Linked DNA regions of Homo sapiens. The protein of the gene in region 3 interacts with the protein of the main gene of each other region in a biochemical or structural test. Each region holds a gene or a part of one and is shown on either strand. Other genes may lie near its edges.

Region 1 (3,653 bases), on a different chromosome or scaffold from region 3:
ATGTTTTACCAGTTCATTAGACACGTTTTACCAGTAACAGGTAGAATAATATTCTAAACTACGGAAAAAATTAATTCTCCTCCCATCCCCACCTACTTTTTACTTTTAAAGAGACAGGGTCTTGTTCTACTACCCCCAGGGTAGAGCACAGTGGTGTGATCACAGCTTACTGCAACCTCGAACTCCCAAGTTCAAGCAATCCTCCTGCCTCGGCCTCCCAAGTAGCTGGGACTACAGGTTCATACCACCATGCCTGGATAAATTTTTTTTTTTTTTTGAGACAGACTTGCTCTGTTGCCAGGCTGGAGTGCAGCGGCGCAATCTACACTCACTGCAACCTCAGCCTCCCGGGTTCAAGTGATTCTCATGCCTCAGCCTCCCGAGCAGCTGGGATTACAGGTGTGTGACAACATGCCCGGCTAATTTTTTATATTTTTAGTAGAGATGGGGTTTTGTTATCTTGCCCAGGATGGTCTTGAACTCCAGACCTCAAGTGATCCACTGCACCCAGCCTTCCTGAATAATTTTTGTATTTTTTGTAGAGATGGGGTTTTGTCATGTTGCCCAGGCTCATCTGGAACTCCTGCGCTCAAGTGCTCGCCTCGGCCTCTCAAAGTATTGGGATTACAGCCATGAGCCACCATGCCTGGCCTACCTGTAAGATGCCTTCCCATCTTTAAGGAAGATTGTAATATATCAAAAGTGAGCAAAACATTTCTTTAGATATTTTTATATACTCAGGTGAAAGTGCTGCCGTAAGTTGACCAGACTATTCCTTTTTTTAAGAGAAGGGGTCTCACGTTGCCCAGGCTGGTCTCAAACACCTGGGCTCAAGCAATCCTCCCATCTCAGCCTCCTGAGCAGCTGGGACTACGGGTGTGTGCCACCACGTCTGATACAACTATCCTTTTTCTTCAGAAACAGTTAAGAAACTCAAACACATAAGTGAACAATATTCTGAGAAAACATCCCATGTTAGGTGGGCAGTATGACAAAAAAAATTCACATTTGATAAAAACTGGAAATGATGTATATCTAAGTTTCCTTAAGGATATTTAAGGTTATTTGCTCTAATCAAGGCATACAGATGAAAACAAACTAACAGTGTCCTCAAGAATGGAGACATAAAATCAGTGTTCACCAGAATTTCATAGCTCATTTGTTTTACAGCAGAACTGATAGGATTATTGAATTCTTTTCCTCCTAACAATGAAGACGTGACAGAACTTTGTAATTACAACCACAGCCACCTATAATTTCCCCTGCGCATTCTTTCAAACTCCTATAAGGCATTTCTGTTCATCCCTTTTGAAGATTCTTCCACATTTATGACACATTCTTTATTAATCCTGACCTTTTCTCGTATTAGCAGTGTGATGGCAGGGGCTCCATTAGCATTCTCATTGCCCTTAGTGTTGGCAATCTGTTTCAAGAACTCCACTTTTTTCTTGCTGGCCATAAAGATGATTTTGTCATCACAAAAGACCATGATAGTATCAGTTAGTTCATAACCAAAGAGCCATGTCTATGGAAAAAGACAACAGTGACAACGGTATTTACAGATACAAAAATTAATGGACTCATATAGATATACAGAAATACTTATAGACAAAAATAACATGTCTGAAATTAACTCCAAGGTAATCAGGCTGGGGAGTCTGGAGTGGATACAAATTAAGCAAGATCGGCCAAGAGTCGACAATTTATTAGAACAGGACAATGGGGTTCAATGTATTATTTTCTCTACGTTTATATGCTTGAACTTTCTATAATTAAAACCATCAAATCAGTTAAACGATTTGTGTTTATAGGAAGTATATCAATGTTTAGTGATACAGAAATGCATAAAACAAGGGACAGAGTGATACAGAACCCTGCGTTATTACCTCCTCAATTACCAGTTCCCTACCAATTATTCATTTCTCCTTCTCAAAGAACTGATATTTTACCTTCCTTTCAGGTAAGTATGGTCATTAGGATCAAATTTTGGCCAATAGGTAAAAAATGGTAGTGTGTGGAGCTTCAAGCAAGTCTTCTTAAAAAGAAAAGGTGGCCTCCTGTTTTCTTCTCTGTCTCTTTTTGCTTGGAATGTAGATGAAACACCTGGAGTTCTAGAAGCCATTCTGTACCACGTGCAAGAGGGCTATGTTCTTTGGGTGGCAGAACAGAGAACTGGAAAAAGCCTGGGTCCCTGAAGACTATACATAAGGAAAAGAATATTTTGTTTAACTCACTGTTACTTAGGTTTTTGTGTTATAGCAGCTAAATCCATACTGATATTAATACTTCTTTTTCCTTATGTCTTAAATCACTGCTAAATCCAATTGAACTTTATGTGATGGTGAAAATACCATTTATCTGCTCTGTCCAATATGGGGTAGCCACTGCTGAGTACCAGAAACACAGCTGATGGGACTGAGAAATTGAAATTTTTTAAAGTAAGAGACAGGGTCTCACTGTGTTGCCCAGGCTGGAGTGCAATGGTGCAATCTTGGCTTACTGCAACCTCTACCTCCTGGGGTCATGCCATCCTCCCATCTCAGCCTCCTGAGTAGCTGGGACTACAGGTGCACACCCCCACATCTGCTTAATTTTTTTGTATTTCTTGTAAAGACAGGGTTTTGCCATGTTGTCCAGGCTGGTCTTGAACTCCTGGGCTCAAGCAATCCACCTGCCTCGGCCTCCCAAAGTGCTGGGATTACAGGCATGAGCCACCGCAGCCAGCCAGGAATTTAAGTTTTAATGTGGCTACCATACTGAACAGTGCAGTAGATAATCCAACAACTCTAAGAGCTAAAAATTGCTGTAAATCTCTCACCTGTAAGGCAGTTGATTTGGCATAAACAATTTCTTCATCAACACCCACTGATACAACAATGGCATCAACGTTGGCATACTCATCTTCTCCTTTCTGAAAAGAGTGGGTAATCATCACTTAATTTTTCACACTAGCAAAACAGGAATACAGCCTTCAATATTTATCTAGGACAGGCATAATTTTCTCCTGATAGAAATTTCAAGTTTAAGGTACATGCCTGTTTGGCAGTCTTACGGCTATTCTATTTTTTGTTTTTACAGTACTTGCTAATTGTTGATAAATATCAAGAGAAATTTTTCCTTAGCCCCCAGATCTATGTTTCATAGTTCAGGAACACAGATCAGTGACAAACGTCCTGTGTAATTCAAAGAAATATTTTATTTTTTAAAATTTTATTACTTATTTTTGAGATGGAGTTTGACTCTTGTTGCCCAGGCTGGAATGCAATGGTGCAATCTCGGCTCACTGCAACCTCCGCCTCCTGGGTTCAAGCAATTCTCCTGCCTCAGCCTCCCCAGTAGCTAGGATTACAGGTGCCCACCACCACACCTGGCTAATTTTTTTATTTTCAGTAGAGACAGGGTTTCACTATGTGGGTCAGGCTGGTCTCGAACTCCTAACTTCAGGTGATCCACCTGCTTCGGTCTCCCAAAGTGCTGGAATTACAGGCATAAGCCACCATGCCTGGGCCAAACTAATTTTTTATATTCCAAAATCATCTTGCACTCTCAAAGATAAGCCACCTTCATCTTAGAATCTTTCAAGGAGTCATAATTTATGCAGAAATCTACATATGCCTTCTTTTTTGGTTCAGCCACAGAAATTTTAATAGAGA
Region 2 (3,653 bases), on a different chromosome or scaffold from region 3:
TTGGAAATCTAGACCTTCCTCATTCATTTTTGTTTTGTTTTGAGATTGCCAAAAGCAAGGGCTGATGTCCCTCATCTACACCAGAGTCCTCTTGTTGAATACCGGACATTAATCATCTTAGTTTCTGTGTAGGATGAACTTAACATTTTTCACAGTTAAAAAAAAATGGTACAAAACAAAAATTTTAAACAACTTTAAATAAGCTTAACCGTCCCTTAATAATAGTATATGAGATTGTTCATCTTGGCAATTTCTGATTGTGATGACTTTCCTGCTTTAGTTACTTCACTATTGATGTAGTTTAGTTTAGAGGTTGTATTAGGGGTCTCTAAAGGGTCAGAACTGATAGGATAGATGAATATATGAAGGGGAGTTTATTAGGAGAATGACTCACATGATCACAAGGTAAAATCCCACAATAGGCTGGGGAGCAAGGAAGCCAGCCTGAGTCCCAAAATCTCAAAAGTAGGGAAGCCACCAGTGTAGGCTTCAGTCCGTGGCTGAAGGCCTAAGAGCTCCTGGTGAACCACTGGTGTAGGTCCAAGAGTCCAAAAGCTGAAGAACTTGGAGTCTGATGTTTGAGGGCAGGAAGCATCCAGCATGAGAGAAAGGTGGAGGCGGAAGACTCAGCCAGTCTGCTCTTTACATGCCTGCCTTTATGCTGGCAGCTGATTAGATGCTGCCCACCCAGACTGAGGGTGGGTCTGCCTCTCCCAGCCCGCTGACTCAAATGTTAATCTCCTTTGGCAACACCCTCACAGACACATCCAGGAACAATAATTTTCATCCTTCAATCCAGTCAGATTGACAAAGTATTAACCATCACAGAGGTTAAGAGCACAGACAGGCAGGCAGCCTGGGTTGGAGTCCTGACTTGGCCACTTACTAGCTATGTCACCTTGGGCTTGGTTTCCTCATTGTAAATAAGGGTAGATGTGAGGTTTTGGTGAATTTGTACGTGTAAGGCATTGAACGTTGTCTGTCACATGGTACGTACTATGGAAAAGGTTATTATGCTTGTATTAAAAAATACAGGAGTATGAATTTATTACTTCAGTGTCTATAGATTCTATAAAGTCAAGATCTAAAAGATTAGCTATTTGTTTTGGTCGTCTCACAAATCTATCATCTGCAGATTTATTTAGCAAGTCTGAAAAATTCATACTTTCATTGCTTGTCTACTCAGTCTTCGAGGGATCATGTAAGAATTAAATTTAGGAAAAACAATTAGCAAGATAAGAGATGAATGGATTCTCCACACGCTGAATAATAGATACCAGATGGCTTTTGAGAAAAAGACCCCAGTTTTTGAGATCTGCTGTCAAGTATTCGATGTCCCGGCCAATAGTTCAAGGAGTACCTGTGTTTTGAAATAGCCTTATGAGTGACATCCTACATTCCATTTATTGAAGTGCTGAATAACAAATATTATTGTTTCTGGCCAGGCATGGTGGCTCACGCCTGTAATCCCAGCACTTTGAGAGGCCAAGGCAGGCAGATCACTTGAGGTCAGGAGTTCGAGACCAGCCTGGCCAACATAGTGAAACCCTGTCTCTACTAAAAATACAAAAATTAGCCAGGCATGGTGGTGTGCACCTGTAATCTCAGCTACTCAGGAGGCTGAGGCATGAGAATCGCTTGAACCCAGGAGGCAGAGGTTGCAATGAGCCAAGATCGCATCACTGCACTCCAGCCTGGGCAACACAGTGAGACTCCATCCAAAAAAAAAATAAAAATAAAAATACCGTTCTTGAAAAATTGAATAAATGCATTATTTCATGATATGTCTTAACAAGCCTGAAGTCTGTGTGATGTAACACTTTAGAATGAGAGGCCACTTTCTGTTCTTTAAGGAGATGTACAGGTGGAAATATTCTTGGCTTTAACTCTAATTTTGTTTTCCAAGATGCACATTATTTTTGCATCTGTGCAATTGATGTCTCTCTAAATTGAAACTTTATCACCTCTCCACAGGGATGCCTCTGCACTGCTGGATCCGATGGAGTGCACAGACACAGCAGAGGAGCAGAGAGTACACAGTCCTCCTGCTTCATTAGTGCCGAGAATTCATGTGATCTTAGCCCAGAAGTTGCAACACATCAACCCATTATTGCCTGCCTGCCTTAACAAAGAGGAGAGCAAAACCTGTAAGTGTAAGTGTTACAGCCTAGTCAACTATCGACTGTTAGCCTCAGTGTGTCCAGAGCTGCCTGTAACGTGCTCATAGTGGAATTGAGAGTCAGGTCTTCATTCCTCACAATAAGTGTTTTCAGTAATCTCTCTCTCGTTGCCCCATTTTTCTCTTACATTAATTCTCTTCACTGAAATGAGGACAAAAGAGTATACAAGGCTGGGTGCAGTGGCTCACGCCTGTAATCTTAGCACTTTAGGAGGCCAAGGTGGGTGGATCACCTGAGGTCAGGAGTTCGAGACTAGCCTGGCCAATATAGTGAAACCCTGGCTCTACTAAAAATACAAAATTAGCCAGGTGTGGTGGCGTGTGCCTGTAATCCCAGCTACTCGGGAGGCTGAGGCAGGAGAACTGGAGGCAGAGGTTGCGGTGAGCTGAGATGGCACCATTGCACTCCAGGCTAGGCAAAAAGAGCAAAACTTGGTCTCAAAAAAAAAAAAAAGGAGGATGCAAACTGCCTTATTTTTAAGATTAGCATCACTTACTGACGGATATGTTAAGCTTTACCTACTGTCGACTGAATTGTGCTTTGCTCACGTAGTTATTTTTTTACCTAAGACACTTGAGAGGAACTGGAGTGTGTGTCCTGACTCAGGTCTTCCTTTCTCCTTCAGTTGTTTCAAGTTTCATGTCCGAATTGTCTCCAGTCAGAGCAGAACTTCTTGGGTTCCTTACTCATGCCCTTCTGGGGGATAGTTTGGCTGCTGAATACCTTATATTACATCTCATCTCCACAGTGTAAGTGCTGTATCCTGGTGGGAATTAGGGGAGTTTGGTGTGTGTGGAAGTGGAAGAGCGGGAAGATTGCTGGTGTCATTTGTGTGTTTTCCTTATTGGGCTTCATCACATGGTTTTTATCTGTCCAGTGTTAACTGTTATACCAAATCACAGACAAATTCCTTTTCTCACAGTTCACATTTAGCATTTTGATTATGTCCCCTTAAATTTTAGAGCCAAAATCAGATAAAGCAGTGGTCCCCAACCTTTTAGGCACCAAGGACCCATTTCATGGAAGACCATTTTTCCATGGACCGGAGTGGGGATGGTTTCAGTATGAAACCGTTCCACCTCAGAACATCAGGCATTAGTTAGATTCTCATAGGGAACACACAGATGTGCAGTTCACAATAGGGTTCGCGCTCCTGTGAGAGTCTGATGCCACTGCTGATCTGACAGGAGGCGGAACTCAGGCGGTAATGCCCACTCATCCACCCCTCACCTCCTATGTTGTGGCCCGGTTCCTAACAGGCCATGAACCAGTACTGGTCCACGGCCTGGGCGTTGGGGACCCCTGAGATAAAGGACCTGGCTGATGAGTAAAATGAGCTGTTTTATCCCTTTTGCATTCTGAACGCTCTGTTTATACATCCCAAGGCGCCCACGTCATGTGCACGTTTAACGTGGACATTGACACTAGCACCGCATCCCTTGACTCCACTGTATTTCTTTGTTTCTCATTTTA
Region 3 (3,653 bases):
AGCAAGCCAGACATGCTCAAGTGCTGGTGCAAACCTACACTCTTACCTGTAACATTCACTCTGTCCCCAGGCTGGACCTTGTCAACGAGATCATTGTGAGCAAACAGGATAACTGTGTGTGGTGTCTGCCCTGCAGGCATGTCTTCCGGAGACTCCTGAAGCTTGATCTGAAGGTCAGCAAACAGAGAACATGTGGGCCACAAAGAGAGGGCAGGGGGACAAAATCTGCATGTCTTTGTACTGCTTTTGCCATATAAGGCTGCAGTGCATATCCCCACATAAATGATTGTCCATGTTTCTCATTATTTCCTTAGAAATTACTTCTTCTAAAGAAGTTGCTGCAACAGACAGCAACAAAACAGGGGAAGGAATGTAGGGAGCTGCGGTGGGGGAAGCTGAGATGCTTTTCATAAAGCAGGGTCGAGGAAGGCCTTTCCAAACCAGGTACCCTCTGAGAGGCCTAAGGATGCTGGGCTTTTCTCTAAGCCACTTTGGGGGCCTGCATGATTCTGAGAATAGGAGGCCATGTGCTCCTGCGGAGCAGGGTGCCTGCCTTTCTGTCTCCAGCTCTCCATCCCATGCAACATTAAAGAAACCATGCACACGCAGTCACAGAAAAACTCAAATCCTGTCCTCCCACATCTTTACAGTCACAATCACGGTAAATAAGCAATTTTCTACCTTCCCCTCACTTTTTTCTGTCATTTTAATAACTTCATCTTAAAATTTCATGAATATAGAGAAAAAAGACCAAACTTCTTAGACAGTAAAATTTGTGAAAAAATTTCAGAAAAATTCCTCAATCCTTTACCAATGGAAAAAGCAGAATGACATTTAACCAAGTATTCTCATCTCAAACGTTTGAAGCATTTTAGGCCATGAAAATACAGTGTCTCTAACAACAGACAGTGCCACTGGCAACAGCACAGGGACAGTGCCCTGAAGCAGGGGCTTTGCGTGCTCTGCATATTTAGCCCATAGGCCACTAACGAAACCCACAAGACCAGAGAGGGATGGATGCCATTCGGGAAGTGAGGCTCAGGGTCCGAGGGACAAGTTATAGTTGGCCTTTTGAGGATACAGACAGGCAAAGCATAGCCTGGGGGGCCAGGGTGGCTGCGCACCATCTGCTTGTCAGAGAAGAGGGAGCGGTTGTGGATGAGTGCCATGCTGTGGGTGGTGTGGCAGCGCCCGCACACACTGGGCTCTGCAATGCGGCCGCGGTCCATCTCCACCCGGGTCGTGTGGGCACACACTTGGCACTGGAAGAAGGCCTCCTGCATCTCGGGAATCAGCTGGGATGTCCTGATCACCATGCCGCTGATGGTGATGAGCTGGTCAATGTCTGTGAGGGGAGAAGAGAGGTCAGCACACCTGACCTGAGGTGTGGAGGTCCAGGAATAGCTGGGATCACAGACAGGAGCTAGGTGCCCAAGACTCTGCCTAGGGCGACCTTTCTGTGTCCAGTCATCTGCAGGCTATGTCTTCAGGAGACTCTCAAGCCCAGCGAACCTCTGGCCCTTCTTCCTCAGGGCCCCTGTCCAGCAGGCATCCCTCGTTCCCTTCTTGTCTGCCTACCCTGCTCCCTGCCTCCTGCCTCACTCACCTGGCCTCCTGTATGACACCCTGCTGTGTCAGGAAAAAAGCCAGACAGCCTGGACTGAGTCCTGACCCTAGCCTTTCTGTGTACATTTTGTGTCCCCTATAGAATGGGGTGGTATCAGCACCTATCCCAGAGCCAAGGACTGAACGTGCCAATGTACTTCAAGCCTAGTAAGAGCACCTGGTAGAGAAAAAGTCCTCTATACTTTAAAGTCATTATTATCCACACAGGAGAACCCCTTAGATGCTCTGATCTTTCACTCTTGCTCGTTTCCTCTATTATTTGAACCTTTCCTGACAGACAACTTTTTCCCTTTGAAGGTCCCACTGCCCGCAACTAATTTCCCCTGCTGGTTTCAGACAAGCTACCCTGTTCTGGCCTGTATTTAGCCACTGCTAGCCGTGAAGATCACCCTATCCTGCCACTGATTCATGAGACCTCTACAATTTTGTTGTTGTTGAGATGGGGTCTTAACCTGTTGCCCAGACTGGAGTACAGTGGTGCAATCACTGCTCACTGAAGCCTCAACCTGCCAGGCTCAAGTAAGCCCGTCACCTCAGCCTCCCAGAGTGCTAGGATTACATGTGTGAGCCACTGTGCCTTGCTAATTTCTTCTTAAAAAGAGATGGAGTCTCTTATGTCACTCAAGCTGGTCTCAAACTCCTGGCCTCAAGTGATCCTCAAATCTTTAAAATCTAATTTTTTTTTTTTTTTGAGACAGGGTCTCATTCTGTCACCCAGGCTGGAGTGCAATGGCACAGCCTCTGCTCAGTGCAACCTCCGCCTCCCGGGTTCAAGCGTTTCTCCTGCCTCAGCCTCCCGAGAGTAGCCGGGACTACAGGCGTGTGCCACCATGCCCTGGTAATTTTTCTATTTTTAGTAAAGGAGTTTTGCCATGTTGGCCAGGCTGGTCTCAAACTCCTGACCTCAGGTGATCCGCCTGCCTCGGCCTCCTGAAGTGCTGGGATTATAGGCGTGAGCCACTGTGCCCGGCCAATAGTCACATCTCTTATATCAGAAACTTCAATTAAATTTAAAAAGTATAGGGGGTTCATAAGTATATAGGATAACTGAATCTATATTATTGTCAATTTATAATCCGTCACCTTGACTACCACCGCCAATTACTTCTTTCATAATTTCTCAATGAAAACAAGGCTATTTTCATGTAAGGCATTTTCCTTCAACAAAAGTAATCCTATGAAAAATACATTACCTTCTGGATTCAGGTTTCTCATATTCTTAGTCTTCAATGCGTTGAATGGTCTTACTTGAATCTGATGTTCTAAGATTGAGTCAGGGTAACGGTCAAAGAAGATTTCATTGACAGCCATGTCAAAAGTTGGAATAACTTCCTGTAAAAACAAATATGAAGATGTATTTGTATTCATATCTCAGTGTTAAATATAATAAAGGCATGTCAGATTAGCAAAGTATAAAAAGACAACATGTCATGTCCCCAAAGTATTACCCTACAGAATCATGCACGTGCTGTTTTCAAATTTAGGTATGCTGAACTATCTATTTCTGCATATTTTCAATTGGGTTAAATTTCATAATTTATACGAAAGTGCCTTCTTGATGTATACTGGCATATTCTTTGCTTTCTATTAGAAGGGAAAAAGATTTTGACCTCACACTTTATTTTCCTTCTATAATGAAGTGATACCAAAGTAAGTTTTTTATTTATTTATTTTTAATTTTTGAGGCAGAGTTTCACTCTTGTTGCCCAGGCTGGAGTGCAACAGCATGATCTTGGCTCACTGCAACCTCTGCCTCTGGGATTCAAGTAATTCTCCTGCCTCAGCCTCCCGAGTAGCTGGGATTACAGGCATTTGCCACCACGCCTGACTAATTTTGTATTTTTAATAGAGACGGGGTTTCTCCACGTTGGTCAGGCTGGTCTTGAACTCCCAACCTCAGGTGATCTGCCTGCCTCGGCCTCCCAAAGTGCTGGGATCACAGGCATGAGCCACCGTGCCTGGCGATACCAAAGTAAGTTAAATCATATTTATTCAAATTTCTTAACATATGGTTCCCATTTTACAGA

The links.
Region 1: the proteins of MCM4 (region 3) and SUPT16H form a complex in vitro, tested with the Homo sapiens proteins (one study listed by BioGRID and IntAct).
Region 2: the proteins of MCM4 (region 3) and MCMBP form a complex in vitro, tested with the Homo sapiens proteins (2 studies listed by BioGRID).

The regions. Positions count from the first base shown.
Region 1 is NC_000014.9:21,370,520-21,374,172, forward strand, and holds part of SUPT16H (FACT complex subunit SPT16), read right to left. Parts: intron 2,912-3,653; coding exon 2,819-2,911; intron 2,178-2,818; exon of another isoform or gene 1,950-2,177; intron 1,526-1,949; coding exon 1,355-1,525; intron 1-1,354. UniProt on the Homo sapiens protein: Component of the FACT complex, a general chromatin factor that acts to reorganize nucleosomes. The FACT complex is involved in multiple processes that require DNA as a template such as mRNA elongation, DNA replication and DNA repair.
Region 2 is NC_000010.11:119,841,748-119,845,400, reverse strand, and holds part of MCMBP (mini-chromosome maintenance complex-binding protein), read left to right. Parts: intron 1-1,974; coding exon 1,975-2,147; coding exon of another isoform or gene 2,148-2,153; intron 2,154-2,805; coding exon 2,806-2,929; intron 2,930-3,653. UniProt on the Homo sapiens protein: Associated component of the MCM complex that acts as a regulator of DNA replication.
Region 3 is NC_000008.11:47,963,879-47,967,531, reverse strand, and holds part of MCM4 (DNA replication licensing factor MCM4), read right to left. Parts: intron 2,959-3,653; coding exon 2,820-2,958; intron 1,346-2,819; coding exon 1,125-1,345; intron 168-1,124; coding exon 47-167; intron 1-46. UniProt on the Homo sapiens protein: Acts as a component of the MCM2-7 complex (MCM complex) which is the replicative helicase essential for 'once per cell cycle' DNA replication initiation and elongation in eukaryotic cells.